4 linked regions of the Homo sapiens genome follow. The protein of the gene in region 1 interacts with the protein of each later gene in a pairwise test. Each region holds a gene or a part of one and is shown in the gene's direction. Other genes may lie near its edges. The genes, in order: HMMR, FAM83D, SVIL and BACH1.

Region 1 (7,027 bases):
ACCCATACAATCCACCCATTGAAAGTGGACAATTCAGTGTTTTTTAGTATACTCACAGATTTGTGCAACCATCACCATAGTCAATTTTAGGACATTTTCATCACCTCAAAATGAAACCTTGTTATCCTTTTCCTAACACTCTCCTATCTCCTCACCCCACCCCACCCTTCAGCCCTAAGAAACCACTAATCTACTTTCTGTCTCTGTTGATTTCCCTATTGTGGACCTGGCATATTCATGGATTCAAATAATATGTGGCCTTTTGTTACTGGCTTCTTTCAGTCAATTAGCATAATATTTTCAAGATTCACCTGTGTTGTAGCATGGAGAGTACTTTATTTTTTTTATAGCCTAATAATTCATTATGTGGGTATACCACATTTTATTTATTCGTTTGTCAGTTGATAAACACTTGTTTGCACATTTTTGGCTATTATGAATAATGCTACCATAAACATTCATGTACAAGTTTTTGTATGGACATTTGTTTTTTCCTGGGACATATTATTTCCCTGGGAAATAATAGGAGGGAAATTGCCAGATCATTTGATAACTCTACATTTAATCATTTCAGGAAGTATCAGACTACATTCAGATGAGATCGGGTGCGTTCAGGGTGGTATGGCCATAGAAAGGTCAGGCTGTATTCAAAAGTGGCTCATACCAATCTATATTCTACAGGCGGTGTACGAGGGTTCCAATTTCTCCACATTCTTACCAACATTTGTTATTATCTGACTTCTTTATCCTAGCCATTGTAGTGGGTATGAAGTGGTATCTCATTAACTTAACTTGCATTTTCTTAATTGGTAATGATGTTGGTCATCTTTTCATGTGCTTACTGGCCATTTGTATATCTTCATGAAAGAAATGTCTGTTTATACTCTGCTCATTTTTAAATTGGATTATTAGTCTTTTTATTATTGTGAGAATTCTTCATCAATTCTGGACACAAGTCTCTTATGTATTATTTGCGAATATCTTCTCCCATTCTGTGCATTGTCTTTTCACTTTCTTGATGATGTCCTTTGACCCAAAAAACTTTTATGACGTCCAGTGTGTCTATTTTTTTGTTTGTTCGTTCCTTGGTATCTATCTCCTCTGCCAAATTCAAGGTCAGGAAGATTTACCCCTGTGTTTTCTTCTAAGAGATTTATAGTTTTAGCTCTTACATTTAGATTATTGATTGATTTTGAGTTAATTTTTGTATGTGGTGTGAGGTAAGGGTCCAGCTTCATTCTTTAGCATGTGGACATGCAATAGTCCCCACACTATTTTTTAAAGAGAATATTCTTGCCTCCAGTTAATGGAGTTAGCATCCAATTAAAAAATCATTTAGACTGTACATGTATGGATTTATTTCTAGACTCTCAACTGTCTTCCATTGATCTATACATCTATCCTTGTGCCACCACACTGTCTTGATTACTGTTGTTTTGTAGTAAGTTTTGAAATCAGGAAGCGTGAGTCCTCTTTGTATTTTTCAATATGGTTTTGTCTATTCTGGACCTCTTGCAATTCTATATTAATTTTGGAATCAGTTTTTCTACAAAGAAACCAGCTGGGATTCTGATGGGAATTGCATTGAATCTGTAGATCAGTTTGGGACATATTATTATCTTCACTAGGTTAAGTCTTCTAATACATGAATATGGGATATTTTTCCAATTATTTAGATCTCATTTAATTTCTTTCAACAATGTTTTATAGTTTTCAGAGTATAAGTTTTCCACTTCTCTTGTTAAATTTATTACTATTTTATTCTTTTTGATGTTTTGTAAATGAAATTGTTAATTTCATTTTTGGATTGTTGATTGCCAGTGTATAGAAATACAATTGATTTTAATATATTTATCTTGTATCCTGCACCCTTGCTAAACTCATTTTAGTTCTAATAGTTTTTTAGTGGATTCCTTAGGATGTTCTTATAGATCATGTCTTTTGCAAATAGAGATAGTGTTACTTATTTTCCAATCTGGATGCCTTTTATTTCTTTTTCTTGTCTAATATCTCTGGCTAAAACCTGTAGTATAATACAGTGTTGAATTTAGAAGTAATGAAAATGGATGGACAGCCTTGCTTTGTTCCTGATCTAGGGGGAAAGCATTCAGTCTTTCTCCATGATATATGATGTTACCTGTATGATGTATATAGCGTGACATTATTAGATGTTGATTTGTTGGCCAGCCGAGGTGGCTTACGCCTATAATCCCAGCACTCTGGGAGGCCAAGGCAGGTGGATCACCTGAGGTCAGGAGTTTGAGACCAGCCTGGCCAACATGGTGAAACCTCGTCTCTACTAAAAATACAAAAGTTAGCTAGGTGTGGCGGCGGGCGCCTGTAATCCCAGCTACTTGGGTAGGAGAATGGCTTGAACCCAGAAGACAGAGGTTGCAGTGAACCGAGATGGAGCCATTGAGCCTGGGAGACAACAGCGAAACAATCTAAAAAAAACAAAGATGTCGATTTGTCATAGATGCTCTTTATCAAGTTGAGGAAGTTCCCTTCTGTTTCCTAGTTTGTTGAGCATTTTTATATGAAAGGGTAATGAATTCTATCAAGTGCTTCTTCTATTTCTATTGAGATTATCATGTAATTTTTTTATTCTGTTGATATGATGTATTTTATTAATTGATTTTTAGATATTAATCTAACCTTCTGAGATAAATCTCACTTGGTTATGGCATATAATTATTTTTATATGTTGCTGAGGGGTTTTTTTCAGCCATATTCCTAAGATATACTGGTCTGTAGGTTTTCTTTGCTTTGTTTTTGTTTTTTTAATGTCTGTCTCATTTTGGTATCAGGGTAATGGTGACATCACAAAATGAGTGAGAAATGTTCCCTCTTTTCTATGTGGAATGGTTTTTGAATAATTGGTATTAATTCTTCATTGAATGTGTGGTAGAATTTATTGGTGAAGCCATCTGGACCTTGGTTTTTCTTGTGAATATTTTTTGGTTACTAATTCAATATCTTTACTTGATATAGGCTTATTCAGATTATCTCTTTCTTCTTGATTCGGTTTTCTTCTTGAGTAGTTTATGTCTTTCTATAAATGTGCCTAATTTGTTGGTATATAATTGTTCATAGTATTCCTTTATAATCTTTTTTTTATTTCTGTAAGGTCAGTAGTAATGGCTTCTCTTTATTTCTGATTCTAGTAATTTGAGTCTTTTTTTTTTAAGTTTCTTTCTTTTTTTAAATTTTTAGTGGAGAAAGAACTTTATTTTTTTGTTTGGTTTTTGGGTTTTTTTAGAGACAGGATCTCACTCTGTCACCAGGCTAGAGTGCAGTGATGCAATCACGGCTCACTGCAGCCTCAACCTCCCTGGGCTCAGGTGATCCTCCCACCTCAGCCTCCCAAGTAGCTGGGACTACAGGCGTGCGCCACCACATCCGGCTAATTTTTCTACTTTTTGTAGAGACAGAGTTTTGCCATGTTGCCCAGGCTGGTCTGGAGCTCCTGGGCTCAAGGAATCTACCAGCTTTGGCCTCAAAATGCTGGGATTATAGGCTTGAGCCACTGCACCTGGCCAAGAACTTTTCTTTTTTATAATTTCATCTTTTATTTTAGATGTGGGGGTACATATGCAGATTTGTTACATGGGTGCATTGCATGATACTGAGGTTTAGGGTATGACAGGTCCCGTCAGCCAGGCAGTAAGGATAGTACTCAATAGGTGGTTTTTCAGCCCTTGTTTAATGGCTGAAAAATCCAACATCCGATTACTCTCAGACATTTTTTCTCCTTGTGTCCAAATGTATAGGTTATACTTTTCTGTTTATTGGCATGCCTTGTAATTTTTCATTGGAAAGTAAATTTTTAGATCATATATTGTAGCATTTCTGGGTACAGCTCCCCCTCCTTTTGGGGGCTTTTTATTTGCTTGTTTGCTTAATGAGTGGCTCAATTATTTTAGGGAAACATATCCCACTACCTCCCCAGACCCCAACAGTATTGTGCCTCTGATGTTGCTGTTCAGGGAGGTACAGTTTTAGGTGTGCCCACAATTACCCTGGGATGACACTTGCTTTGGTAGGGCTGCCTTCCTCTCTTTCCGTGAACATAGTGACTGTAAACTCCAGTAGATGCTGGCTCCTTGCTTGATTATTTGCAACAGTGCCTTAGGGCATAAATTGCTCTATAAACTAATCCAATCAAATTCTGGCTCCTTTGTAGGGATTGCATACGAGAGCAGTGCTGGATATTTATTCTGACTACAGAAGGGCTCGTCCCAGCTGTCATATTCCCTAGTTTTCTCCTGCAAACTAACTAGCCTACTGTTCAGCCTGTATCTTAAATCTCCTCCCATTTCTCTCTCACTATAACCACCACTGTTCTTTAATGGTTCCCCAACCTTTTTGGCACCAGGGACCAGTTTTGTGGAAGGCAGTTTTTCCACAGACCGGATCACCCAGCTTGTGATGGGTTTATGTGGATGGTTTCAGGATTAAAGTGTTCCACCTCAGATCATGAGGCATTAGATTCTCATAAGGAGCATGCAGCCTAGATCCCTCACATGTGCATTTCACAATAGGGTTCACACTGCTGTGAGAATCTAATGCCGCAGCTGATCTGCCAGGAGGGGGAGCTCAGGGGGTAATGCTTATGCTTCCTGGCTCACCACTTACCTCCTGCTCTGCAGCCGGGTTCCTAACAGGCCTTGGATGGGTATTGGTCTGTAGCCCGGAGGTTGGGGACCCCTGCTTTAGAGCACCCTTAGGCTTCAGCTTCTCCAAGCTCTGTTGCAGGTGAAGTCAGTTCCTTTGAAAAGAAATGAGGAGCTCCCTGTTTTATGGCCTACTTGTCTTTTCCGCCCTCCTTTCCCCCTCCCCCGACAATATCCCTGAGCCAGGACTAGAGCTGAAATTGGGGACAATGGCAGTTTTCTCTCTGAGTGACATCCTCTGCCCTAGGAGCTGAGTTTTCAGTGGACTTGTGGGGAAGAGATGAGGAATAGCCTCAGGCCCTCTTGAGTAACCTCCTGGTGTAGAACCATCCCCCTCATGAGCCAGAGAAAGAGTCATCGGGGCCCAGCATTTTCAACACACTGTGCCCAAGGTGAGCCCCTGTTCCATGAATGGGGCTGACTGGAGGAAGGGATCCCCCACCTCACAATTGCATTTGTCCAGGATATAACTGCAGCCACAGGGAGCTGGGGACAAAATGAGAAACTCTGATGTCCTGGTCCTCCTGGGAGGGAAGCTTCTGACTCGGAGTTGGGGGAAAAGAGGGCCCTGTGCTTTTGGCTGTAGCCGTCTGGCGTGGACTTTGCCTTGCTAAGCTGGGAGTGGGAAGAGGGGAAGGAGTTTTGGCTTAAACACTGCAGACTCTCTTTTTCACCAAATTTTTGCAGATTTTCTTGAATAGATGTTTCTTCATTTGCTATTTTTCCCTTAGGTCAATTTTCAGAGGCTTTAACTGGTTAATATTTTATAACTTTTAGTTTCACTAGGGAGCAGGTCAGCAGAACTTTCATGCTGTCATGCCAGAAGTCCATCTCAGCAATTACTTTTGAGTTGAACTTTTATCAGAAAAATAGCTTTGTAGCTGAGGAGGGGCAAGGAGATTTAAAAGACTGTATCTCCTTTGTCACAGCTGTTTCATGTCATTTTGTAATTCAGTCTTAAAGCCTGTGTCTAGTAGTGATTTTTGCTGTTGAGTGTGATAATACATAAACAACTTTGGAATTTGCCCGCAACATTGGTAACACATTTCACTGACATACTCTTTAATAATTGTTTATTACCTATTATTTCTTTTTACCTAGGAAGTATCAAAACTCCGCTGTCAGCTTGCTAAAAAAAAACAAAGTGAGACAAAACTTCAAGAGGAATTGAATAAAGTTCTAGGTATCAAACACTTTGATCCTTCAAAGGCTTTTCATCATGAAAGTAAAGAAAATTTTGCCCTGAAGACCCCATTAAAAGAAGGTAAGACATGAATAAATGTATAAAAGTGTCCTCTTCCTTTGGATTTGCTTTTATAGCATTTAGCAAGTCATCCATTTTATGAACTGTGAAAATTTGTTGACACCTTCTGATAAAAGCAGTTCTTACTGAGATTGTTGTGTACAATGACTGTTTTCTTCCTCCTTCTACGCTTTCTTTTCTGTATACCTGGATTCTGCCTGTTCTTCAAGGCAAATCTCAAATCTTCCTTGAAGCTTTGCATGACTATTTTGTCCCTGTCCACACACCCCAAATTACTCCCTCTATAATACCCTTAGCATTTTAACCTAAATGTCTCTTAGGTCCTTAATCATTTTCTGATTTGTAGTTTTAGAGAAGTAAATTTCTTATTTCTTGACTGTGAATGTTTGTCTTTCACGATAAATTAAAGTTGGTTGAAATGATAAATCTAAAAATTATCTTACAGAATATATTGCTTCATCTGCCTTAAAGAAGATACAAGGCCTGTTTTTAGTTTATAATGATGGATAAATTCGTTTTAATCTAGATTACTAATCCTTCTTTTCAATAATTCTTCTAGGCAATACAAACTGTTACCGAGCTCCTATGGAGTGTCAAGAATCATGGAAGTAAACATCTGAGAAACCTGTTGAAGATTATTTCATTCGTCTTGTTGTTATTGATGTTGCTGTTATTATATTTGACATGGGTATTTTATAATGTTGTATTTAATTTTAACTGCCAATCCTTAAATATGTGAAAGGAACATTTTTTACCAAAGTGTCTTTTGACATTTTATTTTTTCTTGCAAATACCTCCTCCCTAATGCTCACCTTTATCACCTCATTCTGAACCCTTTCGCTGGCTTTCCAGCTTAGAATGCATCTCATCAACTTAAAAGTCAGTATCATATTATTATCCTCCTGTTCTGAAACCTTAGTTTCAAGAGTCTAAACCCCAGATTCTTCAGCTTGATCCTGGAGGTCTTTTCTAGTCTGAGCTTCTTTAGCTAGGCTAAAACACCTTGGCTTGTTATTGCCTCTACTTTGATTCTGATAATGCTCACTTGGTCCTACCTATTATCCTTCTACTTGTCCAGTTCAAATAAGAA
Region 2 (7,027 bases), on another chromosome or scaffold:
AGTCTCCGGAGTGGCAGTGACCTCAGAGCTGGGTGGGGCTTGCCAGACCTAGGGTATGGGGGCTGGCCCACAAGTGTTTAAGGACCTGGAATGTTTGGGGGCAGCCAAATTCCCCACAGCGGGTTAGTGGTAGGAGAGGAAGCTGGGGTAAGGGATGCTGAAATGAGTTGGGTTTGAGACAGTGCTGAATTTGAGGTCCCAAAGACAATCTCTTTTGTTTAAAAAAAAAAAAAAAAGCCAGGCCATGGTATCATGTGCCTGTAGTCCCAGCTACTCAGGAGGCTGAGGCAGGAGGATCATTTGAGCCCAGGAGTTTGAGGCTGTAGTACACTATGACTACGCTGTGAATGGCTACTGCACTCCAGCCTGGGCAACACGGGGAGACCCTGTCTCTTTAAAAAAAAAAAAAAAAAAAGTAATGCTTTCTGTTTGCCAGGCACTGTTCTAGGTGATCCCAAGGAAGGTGCGATTATCATCTTCATTTTACAGCTGATAGAACTGAGGCATAGAGAAGTTAAGTGGCCCCGAAGTCATGCAGCTAGAGAATGAAGGAGCCTGTACTCAAATTGAGGCACAGAATGTCTGAACCACTGTTAACCACCACACTCCCTGTGGAGGGTTCAGGAGCCTGTGCTCAGGTGGGGAGAGGTGACAGCAGATCTGGTGGCTAGCTAAGAGCTACTACTATTTATGGGCATGCATTGTGGACAAGGGAGTGGCTGTGTCACCTTGACCACATCCTTTGAAATCTAGTACCTGTGACAGCGAGGACCATGAAGGTGTAGGTCTCAGGCTGCTTTCAGGATGAAATGAGAAGCTGTTCTGCATCCGTGTTCTGATAGCAAAGGTACCTAATGGTGATATGATTGAGCACTTTGAATGGGTCAGTTTCTGTGCTAAACCCTTGACCTGAATTACCTCATTTAACCCTCCCAACACTGGGAGGAGGCTACAATTAAGAAAAGACCAGGCACAGAGAAGTTAAGTAACTTGCCTGAGATCACACAGTTAGCATGGGACAGAGCTGGGCTCAAGCCCAAGTCTGTCTAGTTCCAGCTCTGAAGCTCAAGTGTTTTTTTTTTGTTGTTTGTTATTATTTTTTTTAAGACAGAGTCTTGCTCTGTCACCCACGCTGGAGTGCAGTGGCATGATCTTAGCTCACTGCAACCTCCACCTCCTGGATTCAAGTGACTCTCCTGACTCAGCCTCCCGAGTAGCTGGGATTACAGGAGCACACCACCATGCCCAGCTAATTTTTTCTTTTTTTTTTTGGAGACAGAGTTGCTCTTTTGGCCCAGGCTGGAGTGCAGTGGCACAGTCTCAGCTCTCAGTAACCTCTGCCTCCCAGGTTCAAGCGATTCTCCTACCTCAGCCTCCCAAGTAGCTGGGATTACAGGCACCCTCCACTAATTTTTGTATTTTTAGTAGAGATGGGGTTTCGCCATGTTGGCCAGGCTGGTCTTGATCTCCTGACCTCGCGATCTGCCTGCCTCAGCCTCCCAAAATGCTGGGATTACAGGCGTGAGCCACTGCGCCCGGCCAATTTTTGTGTTTTTAGTAGAGATGGGTTTCGCCATGTTGCCCAGGCTGGTGTTGAACTCCTGGGCTCAAGTGATTCACCTGCCTTGGCCTCCCAAAGTGCTGGGATTACAGGCGTGAGCCGCTGTGCCCGGCCACTGAAGCCCACACTCCTAATCCCTGCTGCATACAGCCTCCCTGCCATGAGGAAGGATTGGAGCTTTGGTAGTTTTCAACAGGCTGAAGGTTTGTAACAGTTGAAGATTGGGACTTTTTAATTTCCATGTTGCGTATTCTATAAACAGGAAAATGACAATGACTAGACCTGTCCTTTTCAGGAAGAAAACGAGGTGGTCAGTTTTTAGAGTAGGAGGCATTAAGGCTGGCAGAGAACCTCCTCAACCCATCAAGTGGGGAAGGTGGTTCATGATGCCAGGAGAACATAGGTCTCTGAGTTTAGGTTTTGTAAACTAGAGTGTGTTTTCCTCTCCCTGGGAAAGATAGAGCCAGATAGATGTTTCTGGTACCTGGAGCAGAGGGATCTGTGAGAATCTTTTGGTGGGTGAATGAAGGAACTTTGAATGCCACATGAAGGGTCCCACTTAACCCCAGAGGTTGGGGCCAGGCTGCAGTAGAGCACGGTCGAACCTCAGTGTTCGCTCCATGCAGCTTTATCTGCCTTCACTGAGGTGGTCTGAGGACCACCCTGCATCTTCAGGAATGTCTCTGGAAGGAGCCAGGATACGAGGCTCCTTGACCAGAGTATAGGCACAGGAAGCCAGGGTTACTTGGTAAATGGTAGGGCCTAATCCTGGCTTTGCAGCCTGAAGCGCTGGTTCTGGGATAGGTTTTATCCAGCAGCTCTCTGACCACACAGAATCACTCAGTGTGTCTGATACATAAAAGATGCTCAGTAAATACTGTAGGGGCCTATTATGTGCACCTTTGCTCATTCAGCTACATGCTTTGAGGAGAAATAAAGGGCAGGGGGAAGGGAGCGGTAGATAGGAAGAAAAGTAGTTCAGGTGATTCTGTCTGCCTTTCCACTCAGCAAGTATTTGTCCCTGGGTGGCTGTGCCTGGGGTTTGTGAATCTGCCAGCCCCTTCCTTGACTCTTGTTTCTATATACCTTTCAAAGTGTGGGCATTCTGCCACACTGAATGAGGTACAGTGTTTAAAAACAAATGGTTTGGCCATGCGCGGTGGCTCATGCCTGTAATCCCAGTGTTTTGGGAGGTCAAGGCTGGAGGATTCCTTGAGGCCAGGAGTTTGAGACCAGCCTGGGCAACATAGCGAGATCCCATCTCTACAAAAAGTTAAAAAATTAGCCGGGTGTGGTGGCATGTGCCTGTAGTTCCAGCTACTCAGCAGGCTGAGGCAGGAGGATTACTTGAGCCCAGGAGTTGGAGGCTGTAGTAAGCTATGATCATGCCAGTGCACTCCAGCTTGGGTGACAGGGCAAGACCCTGTTTCTAAAAAATAAATAAAAACACAATTACGTATAGCATGGCTTGAATACAAGCTGGCTGCTTACCAGGTGCTCAGGCGAGCTTCACCAAAATTGGAGGAAATACTGTTTTGAACCTTTTGAGAACCCATATGTTTGTTTCCTAAGCAAGTTTTTGGATAATCTTGAATTATACAGGATATTTTCCCTACATACTTGCTGTAGATCCACCCCTCCACCACTGTATCTGTTGATGACGCATTCAGCTTTTTGCCTCTGTTGCTGTGTGAACTGGGATTTGGCTGGGCTGTGGCCGCCTGCCTGGAAGGGCTACATAGCCTCATTTTGGCAATGTGCTTATGAATTGGCTGTCCGGCTATTCCTGGTTTGTTGAATGAGAGTTCAGAGGCAAAGCTGGTACCACCACGAGGTTCCAATTCCTCAGAGTCACGTTTCTTACCAGTGCCTATTCTCTTTTGTTCCAAAGAGGCCACTTTTGCTATGACCTCACCCTCGGGCATCCTCTTGATAACCTGAGCGTTAGTAGTGGGGATCATTGCGTTCCCAGAGAGCCCTGCCAGGAGGAGTAGCAGCTTAGGAATCTGTTGGGGGCCCCTGGCATTTACTTGGATGTATCTGAATGAAGGCTTTCCTGTTCTTGCACAACTTTCCTCTGCATTACAGTAGAGCCTGTGTGGTGTGATCAGTTTCTGTTCCAAATGCTCATGTCAGCCCCAAGCAGGGCTTCTCACCCTCAGCACTGTTGACCTTTTGGGTTGGATAATTCTTTGTCCTGAGGGGCTGTCTTGTACATTGTAGGACGTTGAGTAGCATCCATGGCCCCCATTCACTCGATGCCAATAGCATCCCTCACACCAGGTAGTCATGATATTCAGTGTCTCCAGAGTGGGAAATAGTGAGTTACTGATGAATGGGCACAGAGTTTCTGTTTGGGGCTATGAAAAAGTTTTAGAAACAGATGGTAGTGATGGTTGTGAATGTAATTATTGCCACTGAATTGTACACTTAAAAATTATTAAGATGGCAAACTTATCTATTTTACCACAATAAAAAAATGTCTCCAGACATTGCTAAATGCCCTGTGGGGGCAAAATCGCCCTCCAGTTGTGAACCACTGGCCTAGAAGTTCTCACTAGTGCATCATTATGGGACATTACCCACTGGACTGAAGTGTTGCTACTATTTATCCCTTCCTTTTGATTTCATGTGTCAGGTTAAGGATTTTAGAATTTAGCCATTTCTCTTTAAAAATATTGTGGTAAAAAATACGTAGCAAAATTTACCATTTTAACCATTTGTAAGTGTACAGTTCAGTGGCATTAAATACATTCACACTGTTGTGCAGCTGTCACTAGCCGAATCTCCAGAGCTGTTTCAGCTTCCCAAAGTGAACCTCTGTACCCATTAAACACTAGCTCTTCATACCCTCCTTTCCTGGCCCCGGCAACCACCATTCTACTTTCTGTCTGCCATTTCTTTCTTTCTTTTTTTTTTTTTGAGAGTCTCGCTCTGTCGCCAGGCTGGAGTGCAGTGGCACCATCTCAGCTCACTGCAACTTCTGCCTCCCGGGTTCAAGCGATTCCCCTGCCTCAGCCTCCCAAGTAGCTGGGACTACAGGTGCCCGCTACCACGCCCGGCTAATTTTTTTGTATTTTAGTAGAAACAGGGTTTCACCATGTCGGCCAGCATGGTCTCAAGCTCCTGACGTCGTGATCTGCCCTCCTCGGCCTCCCAAAGTGCTGAGATTACAGGCGTGAGCTACCATGCCTGGCCTCTGTCTGCCATTTCTTTATTCTTTTCCCTTAGCGTCTAGCAGACAGTAATGAAGCTGCAGAATTCTTCTCTGACTTCTTTATGGATAGAAGGTATGTTACTTCAGGAAAAAAGCAAGCAAAACCCAAAAATGTAGTGGATATATTGGCTTAAAAAAATCTTGAACCCGGTCTCTACTAAAAATACAAAATTAGCTGGTTGTGGTGGTACATGCCTGTAATCCTGGCTACTTGGGAGGCCGAGGCAGGAGAATAGCTTGAACCTGGGAGGTGGAGGTTGTGATGAGCCAAGATCGTGCCATTGCACTCCGGCCTGGGCAACAAGAGTGAAACTCCGTCTCAAAAAAAAAAAAAAAAAAAAATTCTTGATGCAAATGATATAACCTCTGGAAGGGAATTTGGCAATATCTAGCAAAATTTCAGTTATATTTACCCATTGATCTACCACTTCCACTTCTCTGTATCTTGATATATTGGCAAAAATATGAATAGTTGTAGACAATAGGCCATGCGTTGCAACACTAATTATAATAGCAAAACACAGGAAAGAGTTCAGGTGTTCGTCAGTAGAGGATGAGTTCATCATTGTGAATGAACCGATTCGTCTCTGCAGTGGAACATCCTGTAGCTCTAAGAAGGAATGAGGACTAGCTCTGATATGCGGTATCTAGAATGGTACTGACCAGTGTAGTAGCCATATGAGGCTATTAAAATTTATATGGATTAAAATTAAATAAAGATTCAGTTCTGTCATCTTGGAAGGTTCTATTGGGCCACGCTAGTCTAGAACAATGTGTAGTATTCCATGCTACCTTTTACCTATAGGGGGATATAAGCACATATACATAGTTATATACATAATACACATGTTTATATAAAACAAATATGTTTATATACACCTGTGTATACTTGTTTATATTGAAAAAATGGAAGAATATACAAAAAACTATTGGAAATATTATCTCAATGGGGAGGAGGGACAAGGATGGAAACTAAGTATCTTTGAAAGTACCTTGTTTTGTAAATTGGATTTTGGAACTAGGCAAATGTTTTACATACTTATAAAATAAAAACAATTCAAAATGATAAGCCCTCCTCCCCCTACCCCCTAACTTCTTGGTGCTTTTCCCTCCCCTTTGAAAAGCCCACCTGCTTGTGTACTTCATGCTGGAATAGTACAGAGTACTGAATAGTGGTCAGTCCCTCCAGAGATCAGTGAAAACTTTGCTCCTGCCACCCTCTGGTGGCCCTGCCAGCACTTTCATCTAATACTTAAATTGTTTTATTTGGTTGCTTGTTTGTTTGTTTGAGACAAGTTCTCATTCTGTTGCCCAGGCTAGAGTGCAGTGGTGCAATCATGACTCACTGCAGCCTCGACCTCCCAGGCTCAAGTAATCCTCCTGCCTCAGACTCCCGAGTAACTGGGACTTAAAGGCACATGCCACCACGCCCAGATAATTAAAAAAATTTTTTCTGGAGACAGGATGTCAACTGTGTTGCCCAGAGTGGTCTCAAACTCCTGGCCTCAAGTGATCCTCCCACCTTAGCCTCCTAAAGTATTGGGATTACAGATGTGAGCCACCGTGCCGGGCCTAAATTGTTAATTTGATAATAGCCTCTGAAACAGAGGGAGAACAGTGCACACAAGCAAGTTTAGGTTTCGCTGTGGGAATTTACATTCTTTTTTGTTTTTAAACCCCAAAGATGTCAAGATAGTTACTTAAAGGTTTTTGACAAAATCCCAAGGAGATTATTTCTGTTCTATTAAAACATGTAATACATGGAGAGAAAATATATCTTTTGCTTTTTTAGCAAGAGGGTCCTGAGAGAGTTAGGAGAGGAAGTGAAGGGTCAATGGAGGCCATGTGGTCAGCTGGGAGAATGCAGCAGCCAGGATGTTATTGACCACAGCACAGGCTGACATTGAGTGGGTGCAGATCTTTGGTGGAATTCCAAGCATGTTGCACACCTGACCTCACTTTATGACTCTGGGAGGGAAGGGAGGGAAACTGAGGTGCAGTGAGAAGGGGTGATCGGTACGAACTTCCTCCTTCACACAGAGGAAGAAGAGCTAGAATGAGAACTGGAATGACTGGCCCTGAGGGGCCTGTTGGGGCTGCACATGTGCCTGGTCAGAGCCTAGACCTGCCCATTGAGTGTGTATGAATCACTGACTTCGCAGAGCTGGAAGGGTTCCTTGTTTCAAGGACACCGAGACTCAGATGGAATGGCTTGTCCAGGGATAGTGACGGAATCGGGACTAAGAATA
Region 3 (7,369 bases), on another chromosome or scaffold:
GTGTGCTAGCGCACACCTGTAGTCCCAGCTACTCCGGAGGCTGAGGCAGGAGAATCACTTGAACTCGGGAGGAGGAAATTGCAGTGAGCCAAGATCGCGCCACTGCACTCCAGCCTGGTGACAGAGTGAGATTCTGTCTCAAGAAAAAGAAAAACAAAAAAGAAAGGGGAAGAGTTCTAGAGAACAGATTTCAAAAACTTGTTTTCTATTATATTTATAGCAGTATTCACATTGGAAGACCAGTGCAGTGACACACTTTCGTTATCCCAGCTACTCAGGTGGCTGAGGCAGGAGGATCACATAAGCCCAAGAGTTCAAGACCAGCCTGAGCCAAATAGTGAGAACCTGTCTCTAAAAATGAAATATAATCAAAAATTGAGATGACCCGATCTCCTCCCTTTCCAAAAAGTTGTTTTCTTGCTATTTCTCCAGAGTTGGTCAGGTTTTAAAAATTAATAATCTGGGGCAGTAGATGAAATTTCTGAAAATTATGTGCAGGTTTCCTTTTTTATTTTTGGATGGGCCCTAGGTATTAGAGGTGCTCTTTTTAAGTATCTACACAGCCTGCTAAATAAACACATTCAATTGGAAAGCAATGCTTTCCATTTCTTATTCTGTATCAAATATTTTACTTTCGGATTAACTTTCATTCTTATAGGGAAAAATAAATATTTCCAGTTTGAAATTCGTAAGATGGCATTGATAATAAGTAAATCTCTATAGATTTATGTGAAGTACAGTTACAGTAAGTCACCCATTTACAAATGGATTATATTTGAAAGTTTCATTTGAAGTAGGTTTGTTTTTTGGGGTTGGGATGCTTTTTCCTTGGAAAAAATACTTAATTAAACTTTTTTTTTTTTTGAGACAGAGTTTCACCCTTGTCACCCAGGCTGGAGTGCAATGGCATGATCTCAGCTCACTGCAACCTCCGCCTCCCGGGTTCAAGCAATTCTCCTGCCTCAGCCTCCCGAGAAGCTGGGATTACAGGCACATGCCAGCCACCATGCCTGGCTAATTTTTGTATTTTTAGTAGAGACAGGGTTTCACCACGTTGGCTAGGATGTTCTCAATCTCCTGACCTCAGGTAATCCATCCGCCACAGCCTCCCAAAGTTCTGGGATTACAGGTGTGAGCCACCCCGCCCTGCTTAAACTTTTAATTTTGAGATAATTATAGATTCAGATGTAGTTGTAAGAAATAGTACAAAGTGATCATGAGGGCTTTTTACCCAGTTTCTCCAGTGATAACATCTTGCAAAGCTATACAATAGTATCACAACCAGGATATTGACACTGATGTGGTCAATCCAATAGAAGAGTTCCAGAACAGGGGTCTCTCATGTGGCCCTGTTAAACCACCTCATCCCCATCCCTAACCTCTAACAACTCCCATCTCTTCTCCATTTCTATAATGTTGTCATCTGGGAAATGCTATGTAAGTGTACTCGTATAGTATCTAACATTTTGGGATTGGCTTTCTGTCACTCAGCATAATTTAATTCCCTGGATTCTTATCCAGGTCGTGGAACGTACTAATAATTTGTTCCTTTTTATTGTTGAGTAGTATTCCATGGTATGGATGTACCACAATGAGGATTGGGTAGAAGCTCATTGCTTTTGCCTAGGGGTGTCTAATTGCTCTAGCACTGTTTGTTGAATGGCACAGAAATCAGTTTGGCATATTCATGTGGGCCTGTCTCTGGGTTCTCCAGTCTGTTCCACTGATCTATGTTATGTGTCTCTCTTTTTGCCAATGCTGTGTTGTCTTGATTACTGTAGTTATCCAGTAGGCCTTAATATGGGATAGATTCATTGCTCTAACTTTTTTCTTCTTTTGAGACGGAGTCTCACTCTGTGGCCCAGGCTGGAGTGCAGTGGCATGATCTTGGCTCACTGCAACCTCTGCCTCCCAGGATTGGGTTCAAGCGATGCTCCTGCCTTAGCCTCCCTAGTAACTGGGATTACAGGTGTGCACCACCACGCCTGGCTAATTTTTCTGTATTTTTGATAGAGACAGTGTTTCACCATGTTCATTAGGCTGGTCTCGAACTCCTGACCTCAGGTGATCCACCCGCCTCGGCCTACCAAAGTGCTGGGATTACAGGCATGAGCCACCACGCCCAGACTAACTTTTTTCTTCTTTTTCAAGATGGTTTTTAGCTATTCTAGGGCCTGTACCTTTACTATAAATTTTAGAATATCTGCCAAAAATCACTGTGAGGCCAGGCAGGGTGGCTCACACCTGTAATCCTAGCACTTAAGAAGGCCGAAGTGGGAGGACAGCTGGAGCCCAGGAGTTCAAGACAAGCCTGGCCAACCTAATGAGACTCCATCTCTACAAAAACTAAGAAATTAAAAAATTAGCCCAGTGTGGTGGTGCACATCTGTAGCCCCAGATATTCAGGAGGCTGAGGCAGGAGGACTGCCTCCTGGGGAGGTTGAGGCTGCAGTGAGCCATGATTGCACACCTCTACTCCAGCCTGGACAACAGAGCAAGACCATGTCTCAAAAAAACAAAACAAAACAAAACAAAACAAAAAAACCTTGCAAGATTTTGATAGGAATTTTGTTAATCTGTAGATCAGTTTGGGGACAATTGACATCTTTTGTGTGTTGATTTTTCTTCCAATTCATGATTATCATCATTGGAAAGAAGTGAGTATGATGAGTCTTCTAAGCCAGGCAGATAGCAAAAAAATTAGGAAAGTAAATGGATTGCACAGGAAGAATTAACTGGGATTTAAATAATCAAAGACAGAAAGGATATATAAAAGAAGTGACGAAGGAGATTTACCCTATTAGACTCCAGTGTATTAATCTAGGACAGTTTGGTTGCTATGGGGAAGCAGTGTGCAAAAACTTAAGAGGCACACAAAAGACTGATGTTTATTTTGTGGGAGTGAATCTTTTTTTAGGAAGGAAATAGCACTATTGTGGTAACAGTGATTCATTTTCTCCTCCTATCTTCTCTTTACAGAGAAGACCCAAATAGTGAACTGTTTCATGTAAGTTTTTATTTATTTTTGCCCTACTTTTCTCTAGGGAGGGGCTTACCACAGCTTATAAAAATACGTAAAACAAGATCAAATAAACTTTAAAATGAGGAAAAAGCCAATATGGTCCAAGGGAAAAGAAGATCAGGGTCAGGACTGAGATTAGGATGCAAAAGCCATGCTATGAAATTTTGTTTGTTTGTTATCTTGAGATGGGTAAAAAAAAAAAAAAACAGTTGACTGGGACAAATACCCCTAGCACAAAACAGTCATGAAGCCAATGTTTAATTATTATACCTGTCATCTTTTCACCTGGCCTCAGGACTGTCCTCTTAGGGAGAGGCATTGTTCTGTAGGGTTAATTAGTAACAGGAATTTAGATCCTGCTTTGAGAGGCCTCCTGTGCTGGCCGAAGCAGCTGGTGGTCTGAGAACCCTGACACCCAGAGGCATACCACTGGGAGGCCCCGCGCAGCACACAGCTTTTGCTGTACTCCAGCCCAAGTCTTATGGGGTTTGTGGTTTATACTGAAGTTGGTGCAGACAATTAAGACTCTCTGTTCTTGGTACCGACAGGGACAGAGACCTACAATTGTAAGTATTTTGTAAACAGGGTTGTGATATTTGTTTGAGTGTATTCAACATGTCAGTGGCCTTTTAATGTTTAAAAAAATGCATATGGCCATTTAAGAAGTGGTTGTGCTTCATAGTTAATATTTTTTTCATTAGGTTAGGTTCATCTGGTTTTTCAGTGAGGTGAGCTACCTGAGAGCCATAGGAAGATAGATCTTGCCAGTTCAGAGGACTGACTTTGGCTTTAAGAGAAAATATTTGTGTCATTTTCGAGAAAGTACTTCCAGCACAATGCTTTCTTCTGATGATTCATTTTCTACAGTTATTGGAAGTGGGAAGAAATCCACAGAGGTTACAGAATTTGTAAACTTGTAGAGACATGTGCCATTATATCATGCTGTTTCATAGATGTGTATGTCTGTTAGTTACTTTTCGGGCATTCATTGTATATATGTCTGTTACTTACTTTTGGGGTGTTCAGTGTCTGAGCTTTGTCAACGATTGTGTGCTCTTTTTTTAGCCTAAAAAAACTAAGTTAGAGAAATGTTTGCTCATCCAAATCTGTATTGTTGTAGCTTATTCAGTAGACTGCTGTTGTATTTTTAATTTCTCTATACAACAAGCTGAAAGACAGTGTGGACAACCTAATTGCATTTGAAGTAGCTGCTGGCCAGGCCTGCTGCAACAGCTGATGGGCTCCTCTGAATTTCCAGGGCTATTTCTGGTAGATGAGCTGGTATCAAGGCTCTCGAGTTCAGGCCATAAAAGGCCCGTCCCATGTGAAGTTGCTTCACTGCTCTGACTGCGTCCTCCCCAGGCTGAAGTGTCCTCAGGTTTCATGTGGATTTGCCCAGTAATGGATGGCTCCACCGAGGCCAGGTTGGGGAAGTTCAGCCTCGAGGACACTAGGGGACGAAAAACTTCAAAAAGAAGACTCTTTTTATTAATATTTTGGCGTTCTTTTTGGAGAGGAACTTTTGGGATGTAGCCTTTACCTGTTTCCTGAATTTGACATCCAAAAAGCCTTTTGGAAAACACCATTCTAAATTTATCCTGTTCTGAATCATCATCGCTTCTGATAGATGCAGTTGCTTGCTGACATCGTGATCTTTGATTTTGTACAACGCTATTTGGGCTAACTTTTGGGATTTTACTTTGTGCTTAGAATTTGAAAGTAGTATTCATTGGAAAGAGACTCCAAGAAAATACTCGAAGACATCAAAAGCTGGATTCGAGGGTATAACGTGTTTTGTTTTGTTTTTTAAATTAGAAAAATAAGGAATTGCAGTGTGATTTTCTTTCCCCCTTTAACTTAGAGGAACGAGGATTATACAGAAATTTGAAGTAAGTGAAAAATCTTCCTATAAATCTAAATGCAGTAGGTTTTTTTTTGTTGTTTTTGTTTTTGCTTTTTTTTAAGTGCCATCTGTCTGAGCATGTTTCCTGAGGATTTGTTGACTTCAGTCATTGGAAAATTCCTGCCAGCGTTTGCCAGTTACTGCAGCCATTCCTGTAGATACCCTTGGGCATATTTCTTGGGTTGAGAAGGATTGGACTTTTTTTTTTTTTTAAAGGATTTACTTTATGGTAGAGAAAGGTTTAATACTAAAAATTTGATTAATATAACTTAGTACATTCTGTCTAAATGTTAGCACTTAAAGTCTTGGAATTAAAGTATATTCACAATGCAACGTACTTTAATAATCGTAGCACAAGTATGGGGGTGGAGTTCAGAAGGGCAAGTTTTATTTCACTGCCATTATAATTCATGTAAAAATAGAAAATCACCAGTGATCCTTTTGCATAATCTTTGTTCTGAGGGTTCTTTGCCTTGGTACTCTCATTCTTCAGGGCTTGATTTCTAGAACTTGCGATGTTCCAGAATTTATGAGAAAAACCTCACTGTAGGTTCTAGAGTTTGAACTGCATTTTATTTTTAAATTCTCCAAGAAAAAATACTGCATCAGCCTTTTAAAGCCCTGGAGATTGCTATGGTCTCTTTGTAATTTAGCTCAGTGATTTGTTTCTGCTGAAAAACAGCAGTGAACTCTAGAACATAGAAGGCTTATTTGACGTGTTGCTTCTTTGAAAAAAAAAAAAGATTATTTCTTTATACCACATCAGATGGACAAGTACGGGCAGTCATTATTTTTACCAGGTAGGAAAACAGAGTATTTATAGAGAAGAACTTCATCGGTGAATACTGCGAGGGTTCTTCACCGGAGATAGTGTGGCAACCCTAGGGGGCGTTTGAAAATGCATGGGGGTGTTTCAGGTTTTCTCAATGACTCACTGGCATTTGGGAGGATGTGGTTAAGAATTGTAAATGCCCAATTTACATGGTGTAGGGGACAGTCCCATACAGCATTACCCTGGCCAAACTGCTGGTGGTATCCCCTGTTGAGTAAAACTGCAGGATATAAATTGTACCCTCTGTCTCCAAAGAAGAGCAGCCCAGTGCCAGGCAGATGTGTGCTGTCTCTTCTCACCAAAACCAGTGATGTCTTTTTTTTTTTTTTTTTTTTTTGAGATGGAGTCTCGTGCTGTCACCCAGGCTGGAGTGCAGTGGCACGATCTCGGCTCACTGCAACCTCCACCTCCCAGGTTCAAGTGACTCTCCTTGCCTCAACCTCCCAAGTAACTGGGATTACAGGCACCTGGCACCATATCCAGCTAATTTTTTTTTGTATTTTTAGTAGAGACGGGGTTTCACTATGTTGGCCAGGCTGATCTTGAACTCCTGACCTCGTGATCCGCCCACCTTGGGCTCCCAAAGTGCTGGGATTATAGGCGTGAGCCCCTGCACCCGGCACCCGGTGATGTCTTGAGGATCCAGGGCATCAAGTGTGCACTAGTGTCAGAGAATTTGTCTTACAATGGAAACTTTGGAGTCTATACTCTGTGTGTGTGTGTGTGTGTGTGTTAAAGATAATTTATTTGGTCACCTTGATCACTGGATGAGGCTGATGTTATACAAGCTATTGTAGTACATTAGGTGCCTTCCTGCCTACCTTTATTTAGTACTATTGGTGCATTTAATTTTGCCACATGCATAGTCTTCCAAGTGAAATTTGGTTAATGCGCTCAGCTTGCAGTGGACATCAGTCAGCCATTCAACAAACAGTTCTTTATCTTTGCTTCTACTTTGGAGACAGACTGTTTTGTGATAAACAGACTTCTGGAAGACTTTGGAGTTCAATTCAGAGTGAACATCTTTGGCAACACCTGGGGTTATATAGTATTCTTTTTTTCTTTTTTCTTTTTTTTTTTTTTGAGATGGAGTCTTGCTCTGTTGCCCAGGCTGGAGTGCAATGACACAATCTCAGCTCACTGCAACCTCCACCTCTTGGGCTGAAGTGATTCTCCTGCCTCAGCCTCCCTACTAGCTGGGATTACAGGCATATGCCACTGCGCCCAGCTAATTTTTGTATTTTTAGTAGAGACAGGGTTTCATCATGTTGCCCAGGTTGGTCTTGAACTCCTGACCTCAGGTGATCTACCAGCGCTCGGCCTCCCAAAGTTCTGGGATTACAGGCATGAGCCACCACACCCGGCGAGTTATTTAATATTCTACAGTTGAGGAATTGCATCCAAAGGAAAGGGCCCTTGGGATTTTTATAAGGATGTCTGGTGAGCTCCAGCATGCAGGGCTCTCGGGCTACATGGAGCGTTATGGAGAGTAAGCTGCTAGGAGCCTTGTGATTGTTAGGGTACAAAGGCAGCCTTGGAATCATCTCCTGAATCTGCAGCTGCCTGGGATTTTAGGACACTCATTGCAATTTTATGTTAAAGCGCTGATCTC
Region 4 (7,027 bases), on another chromosome or scaffold:
ATGTATTAACTATGGTTCATATTTTCAAATTATTGAATGAGACTTTACAAGTAAAGCAAAGTTTGATTCGTGGATTTAGGAGGAAAGGTATGTGCATACATGCATGTGTGTATGCATTCATTCATTCTTTCTAATGTGTAAATCATAAGTTTTCAAATATTTGAAGTGTTTCATTATAGTGACAATGTCAAAATACCTTATAACTCACTATCCTAAAGACCTTTTTAGATTATTTTAACATATTTAAAAATTTTAATTGAAATTTTTATCGAGTGTATTAGGGTTCTCCAGAGGGACAGAACTAATAGGATATATGTATGTATGAAGGGGCGTTTGTTAAGGAGAATTGGCTCACATGTTCACAAGGTGAAGGCCCATTATAGGCCACCTGCAAGCTGAGGAGGAAGGAAGCTAGTAGTGGCCCAGTCCGAGTCCAAAGGCCTCAAAAGTAGGGAAGCCAACACTGTAGAGCCTTCAGTCTGTGGCCAAAGGCCCAAGAGCCCTCGGCAAACCGCTGGTGTAAGTCTGAGAGTCCAAAGGCCAAAGAACCTGGCGTCTGATGTCAAGGGCAGGAGGCATCCAGCAGGGGAGAAAGATGAAAGCTGGAAGACTCAGCAAGTCACCTATCCCACCTTTTTCCTCCTGTTTTGTTCCAGCCTCGCTGGCAGCTGAGTGGATGGTGCCCACCCATATTGAGGGTGGGTCTTCCTCTCCCAGTCCACTGACTCAAATGTTAGTCTTCTCTAGCAACGCCCTCACTGACACACCCAGAAACAAGACTTTACAGCCTTCAATCCAATCAAGTTGACATTTAATATTAACTGTCACACTGATGTTTTCATGTACAGATGTAAGAAACAATGCAGAGTTCCTTTTCACTTTGTCCAGTGTCCGCCATTGATAACATTTTGCAAAATTGTAGTATAGTATTACAACCAGGATATTGATACAATCTCCCATAGCGTTCAGATTGCCACAATTTTGCTTGTACTAGCATGTGTGTGTGCGGGTTAAGTTCTATATAATTTTATCCCCTGCGAAGGTTTGTGTATCCACCACCATAGTTAAGATAACAGCCGGGCCCAGTGGCTCATGCCTGTAATCCCAGCACTTTGGGAGGGCGAGGCAGGCAGATCACCTGAGGTCAGGAGTTCGAGACCAGCCTGGCCAACATGGTGAAACCACATCTCTACTAAAAATACAAAAATTAGCCAGGCGTGGTGGCGGGCACCTGTAATCCCAGCTACTCGGGAGACTGAGGCAGGAGAATCACTTGCAGTGAGCCAAGATCGTGCCGCTGCACTCTAGCCTGGGTGACAGAGAGAGACTCTGCCTCAAAAAAAAAAAAAAAAAAAAAGGAACTGAACTTGCCAACACAAAGATCCCTTGTGTTGTCCTTTTATAACCACAGACATCTCCTGCCTACACTCCATGCCCTCATCCCCTTGCCCCCTTCCTCCGTGCCTAATCCATGGCAACCACTAATCTTTCTTCCTTTTCTAAAGTTTTGTCATTCTAAAAATGTTATATAAATGGAATTATGCAGTATATTACCTCTTAGGATTGATGTTGTTTGACTTAGCTGAGATTATCCAGCTTGTGTGTATCAGCAATTTATTCCTTTTTATTGCTGAGTAATATTCTGTAGTATGGATGTACCTTGTGTGTGTGTGTGTGTGTGTGTGTGTGTGTGTGTGTGTGTGTGTAGCTTTTTACCTATTGAAGGAAATCAGGCTAATTCTGGTTTTTGGCTATCACAAATAAAATTGCTGTAAACATTTGTGTACTGGTTTTTGTGTGAACATAAATTTGCATTTCTCTGGGATAAAAGACCAGGAGTGCAGTTGCTGGGTTATATGGTAGTTGCATGTTTAGTTTTATAAGAAAGTTTTTTTCAAAGTGTCTGTACCATTTTACATTCCCACTAGCAATATGTGAGTGATTTAGTTTATCGGCATTCTCATTAGCATTTGATGGTATCACTGCTTTTTATTGGAGCCTTTAAAAAGCCTAAACATGGTTTAGCATGTTTATGTTTTTAAGAAGATCACAGCCGGGCGCGGTGGCTCACGCCTGTAATCCCAGCACTTTGGGAGGCCTAGGCGAGTGGATCACGAGGTCAGGAAATAGAGACCATCCTGGCTAACGTGGTGAAACCCCCGTCTCTACTAAAAATACAGAAAAATTAGCCGGGCATGGTGGCAGGCACCTGTAGTCCCAGCTGCTCGGGAGGCTGAGGCAGGAGAATGGCGTGAACCCGAGAGGCGGAGCTTGCAGTGAGCCGAGATCGCGCCACTGCACTCCAGCCTGGGCGACAGAGCGAGACTCCGTCTTAGAAAAAAAAAAATCACAAATATTAATATTATCTTGACCACTCTTATAAGAACTCAGTGGTTTCAAATTAATTTTGTGCTTTTAATCCAGGATGATGCCTTCTGTGTACTGGAGTTGGTTCCATTTGCCTCTCACTTTAAGAGGCAGGTTTAATGTAAATGTGCAAGTTTCTACTTAAAAGTTTTGTTACTTCGAGTCCATGAATTTTTGCTGAAACAGTACCGAGGCATGATTTTTATAACTTCTCTTAGATCACTTTTAAAAATCTGAATCTTTAAAACTTTTACTGTTAGGAATTTTTGACAGTAAAGTTAATAGTTACCAGTTAGTATGCATTTACCATGGATCAAGACTTTGTAACTGCTTTACAAATACTGTTTTATATCCTTTAAAATTCTGCTTTTGTAGCTTGTAGCAGTTGGAGTTGTTTGGAATACAGTGGCCATGTGGAGCTGGGCTAGCAGTAGACTCACTATGTGTGGCAGGTAGTGTTCATCCTGCTCTAATTCATAGATGATTTTTTTTTTCACTATCATGGGAAAATTGTGGTAATGTCTTACATCTTTAACTTATGTGAGTAAACCATAATTCATGTGCAATTAAGAGAGGACTCTATAAAATAGTGTGTGGTCCCTGTGAAAAGCATGCTTTTCCAGGATCTTTTTCTTTTACATTTCTTAGAAGAATATGTTTTCTTCAAATTAAAGTACATATTTTATAATTATCACAAATAAGTTACATATCTCTCTATTCCTCTTCTACTTATTTTGTTTTTATGTACTAGACAGCTTTCAAATGATGTGTTTGTTTTTATTTTGTGTATCAACAGGTGACAGTTAAAGGATTTGAACCTTTAATTCAGTTTGCCTACACTGCTAAACTGATTTTAAGTAAAGAGAATGTGGATGAAGTGTGCAAATGTGTGGAGTTTTTAAGTGTACATAATATTGAGGAATCCTGCTTTCAGTTTCTGAAATTTAAGTTTTTGGACTCCACTGCAGACCAGCAAGAATGCCCAAGAAAAAAATGCTTTTCATCACACTGTCAGAAAACAGACCTTAAACTTTCACTTTTGGACCAGAGGGATCTAGAAACTGATGAAGTGGAGGAATTTCTGGAAAATAAAAATGTTCAGACTCCTCAGTGTAAACTCCGCAGGTATCAAGGAAATGCAAAAGCCTCACCTCCTCTACAAGACAGTGCCAGTCAGACATATGAGTCCATGTGCTTAGAGAAGGATGCTGCTCTGGCCTTGCCTTCTTTATGCCCCAAATACAGAAAATTCCAAAAAGCATTTGGAACTGACAGAGTCCGTACTGGGGAATCTAGTGTCAAAGACATTCATGCTTCTGTTCAGCCAAATGAAAGGTCTGAAAATGAATGCCTGGGAGGAGTCCCGGAGTGTAGAGATTTGCAGGTGATGTTAAAATGTGACGAAAGTAAATTAGCAATGGAACCTGAAGAAACGAAGAAAGATCCTGCTTCTCAGTGCCCAACTGAAAAATCAGAAGTGACTCCTTTCCCCCACAATTCTTCCATAGACCCTCATGGACTTTATTCTTTGTCTCTTTTACACACATATGACCAATATGGTGACTTGAATTTTGCTGGTATGCAAAACACAACAGTGTTAACAGAAAAGCCTTTGTCAGGTACAGACGTCCAAGAAAAAACATTTGGTGAAAGTCAGGATTTACCTTTGAAATCCGACTTGGGCACCAGGGAAGATAGTAGTGTTGCATCTAGTGATAGGAGTAGTGTGGAGCGAGAAGTGGCAGAACACCTAGCAAAAGGCTTCTGGAGTGACATTTGCAGCACGGACACTCCTTGCCAAATGCAGTTATCACCTGCTGTGGCCAAAGATGGCTCAGAACAGATCTCACAGAAACGGTCTGAGTGTCCGTGGTTAGGTATCAGGATTAGTGAGAGCCCAGAACCAGGTCAAAGGACTTTCACAACATTAAGTTCTGTCAACTGCCCTTTTATAAGTACTCTGAGTACTGAAGGCTGTTCAAGCAATTTGGAAATTGGAAACGATGATTATGTTTCAGAACCCCAGCAAGAACCTTGCCCATATGCTTGTGTCATTAGCTTGGGAGACGACTCTGAGACGGACACCGAAGGAGACAGTGAATCCTGTTCAGCCAGAGAACAAGAATGTGAGGTGAGCAGGAATATGTTCTTAATTCATTGTTTTAATAACCATTAATTGGGATTTACTGTGGATCAGCTCCCTTTGCATCATTAGGGATATAATCAGGTTCAGGGAGTGGGGAGGAAACTCATACAAAATTAATTGTAAGACTGTGTGATAGGGCTGGGCGCAGTGGCCCACAACTGTTAATTCCAGCACTTTGAGAAGCCGAGGTGTGGGTGGATCACCTGAAGTCAGAAGTTTGAGATCAGCCTGGCCAACATGGCGAATCTCCGTCTCTACAAAAATTAGCTGGGTGTGGTGGTGGGTGCCTGTAATCCCAGCTACTCGAGAGGCTGAGGCAGGAGAAGCGCTTGAATGTGGGAGGCGGAGGTTGCAGTGAGCCAGGTTTGCACCACTGCACTCCAGCCTAGGAGACAGAGCAAGACTGTCTCAAAAAATTTTTTAAAAACACTGTGTGATAAATACCAAAAGAGAGAGATGAAGTTTGAAGGACTTCTGTTCATTCGTTTCCAGTAGATATATTAACCATAAAGTAGGTTCACACATTGGCTGTGTTCACACATCGGCCATTTAATTGTTTAAATCAAATGCCATGCTGCAAGACAAAAAAGAATAATGATTCTATGCTCATTATTTGATAACTCCTGGAAAAATGCAGCATATATTCAGTCTTGCTCATTGCCAACAAGAACCTCTAGACCTGGGACATGTCCCTGAGCAGTGGTTTAACAGTGATTAGTTGTAGGAATGTGACTTCTAGTGGAGTAAAGTTTATTGGATCTAGTTTTTCATGGCCATTGATTTTTAAATTTTCCTTTGGCCATTTCAACTATTGATGAATGTCTTAATTTAGCATGAGTTACATGTAGCTGGTATGATATTAATCAAAGCAAGCTTGATTTGTATATTCTGTTTGTATTTGATAGATCCTTTCTGTAAAATATTACTTATAAGTCCAATAATGACAAGGGCCTGTTAGTTCCTTCCAAAAATATATTAATTAAAATATTTTTTCTTTTTTTTGTTTTTATATTTTATGATTTTTTTTGCCTTTCAATAGTTGGCTTTTCTCTTTATAATCACAATTTACATTCTTTTTAAAAATTATTTTTCTATTTTATCCATTGCATTTTTTCCCCTTTCTTGGGCTTTATTTGTTTTTTGTAAGAATACTTAACATGGGATCTACCCTTATAACAAAATTTTAAGTGTACGATACAGTATTGTTAAGTATAAGCACAATATTGTACAGCAGATCTCTATAACTTATTCTTTTATGACTGAAACTTAACCCATCCAATTGCAATTCCCCATTTTTTCCCTCTCCCTAGCCCCTGGCAACCACCATTCTACTCTCTGTTTCTGTGAGTTTGACTGTTCTGTCTACTTCGTATAAGTGAAATCATGTTGGATTTACTCTCCTCTGTGTCTGGCTTATTTCACTTAGCATGATGCCTCCCAAGTTCTCCATATTGTAGGCAAATGGCAGGATTTCCTTCTTTTTATCAGGCTGAATGGTATTCCTTTGTGTATATACACCACGTTTTCTTTATCCGTTCATCCATCCATGGACATTTAGGTTGTTTCCATATCATGGCTATTGTGAATAATGCGGTAACGAATATGGCGGGGAGTACAGACTGGGCACAGTGGCTCATGCCTGTAATCCCAACACCTTGGGAGGCTGAGGTGGGTAGATTGCCTGAGCCCAGGAGTTTGAGATCAGCTTGGGCAACATGGTAAAACCCCATCTCTACAAAAAATACAAAAATTAGCCAGGCATGGTGGCATGTGCCAGTAGTCCCAGCTACTTAGGAAGCTGAGGTGAGAGGATCGCTTGAGCCTAGGAGGTTGAGGCTGCAGTAAGCCATGATTGTGCCACCGTACTCCTGCATGACAGAGACCCTGTCTCCAAAAAAATATGTGTAGATCAGTGCAGATATCCTTTTGAGATTGTATAGAAATTGGGATAGAGGCCTATGTTTTCTTTAATGTAAAATAAGTTCTCTGAAAAACTTAGATGTATACCTTCATCTTCCTAGGTTTGACTATAATTATAAAATACAGCAATAATTAGTAATATTTATTTCATATTCTAGGTAAAACTGCCATTCAATGCACAACGGATAATTTCACTGTCTCGAAATGATTTTCAGTCCTTGTTGAAAATGCACAAGCTTACTCCAGAACAGCTGGATTGTATCCATGATATTCGAAGAAGAAGTAAAAACAGAATTGCTGCACAGCGCTGTCGCAAGAGAAAACTTGACTGTATACAGAATCTTGAATCAGAAATTGAGAAGCTGGTAAGTGTAAAAGTTTCTTGTTACTATTTAAATTCCACCACTTTCTTTTTTGTCAAGGAAATAGTTTTTAAATTTCTAGGTCAGATATAATGCTCAATTACTTATTTTAATATGTATCAATTACCATTTTATCATTTTTACCATGATATGCTGTGATATGTAAGTGCTTTTTAAAAAGAAGGTTTTCAAATTAAGAATGACTTTACTGTCTACCTAATCATTAGTGGTT

What was found.
Region 2: the proteins of HMMR (region 1) and FAM83D interact in binary tests that used the Homo sapiens proteins (3 or more experiments, as listed by UniProt).
Region 3: the proteins of HMMR (region 1) and SVIL interact in a two-hybrid assay, tested with the Homo sapiens proteins (one study listed by BioGRID).
Region 4: the proteins of HMMR (region 1) and BACH1 interact in a two-hybrid assay, tested with the Homo sapiens proteins (one study listed by BioGRID).

What each region holds. Positions count from the first base shown.
Region 1 is NC_000005.10:163,484,616-163,491,642, forward strand, and holds part of HMMR (hyaluronan mediated motility receptor), read left to right. Parts: intron 1-4,635; exon of another isoform or gene 4,636-4,768; intron 4,769-5,774; coding exon 5,775-5,937; intron 5,938-6,496; coding exon 6,497-6,549; 3' UTR 6,550-7,027. UniProt on the Homo sapiens protein: Receptor for hyaluronic acid (HA). Involved in cell motility. When hyaluronan binds to HMMR, the phosphorylation of a number of proteins, including PTK2/FAK1 occurs.
Region 2 is NC_000020.11:38,929,395-38,936,421, forward strand, and holds part of FAM83D (protein FAM83D), read left to right. Parts: intron 1-7,027.
Region 3 is NC_000010.11:29,631,962-29,639,330, reverse strand, and holds the start of SVIL (supervillin), read left to right. Parts: upstream 1-4,359; 5' UTR 4,360-4,911; intron 4,912-7,369.
Region 4 is NC_000021.9:29,322,896-29,329,922, forward strand, and holds part of BACH1 (transcription regulator protein BACH1), read left to right. Parts: intron 1-3,163; coding exon 3,164-4,498; intron 4,499-6,591; coding exon 6,592-6,798; intron 6,799-7,027. UniProt on the Homo sapiens protein: Transcriptional regulator that acts as a repressor or activator, depending on the context. Binds to NF-E2 DNA binding sites. Plays important roles in coordinating transcription activation and repression by MAFK.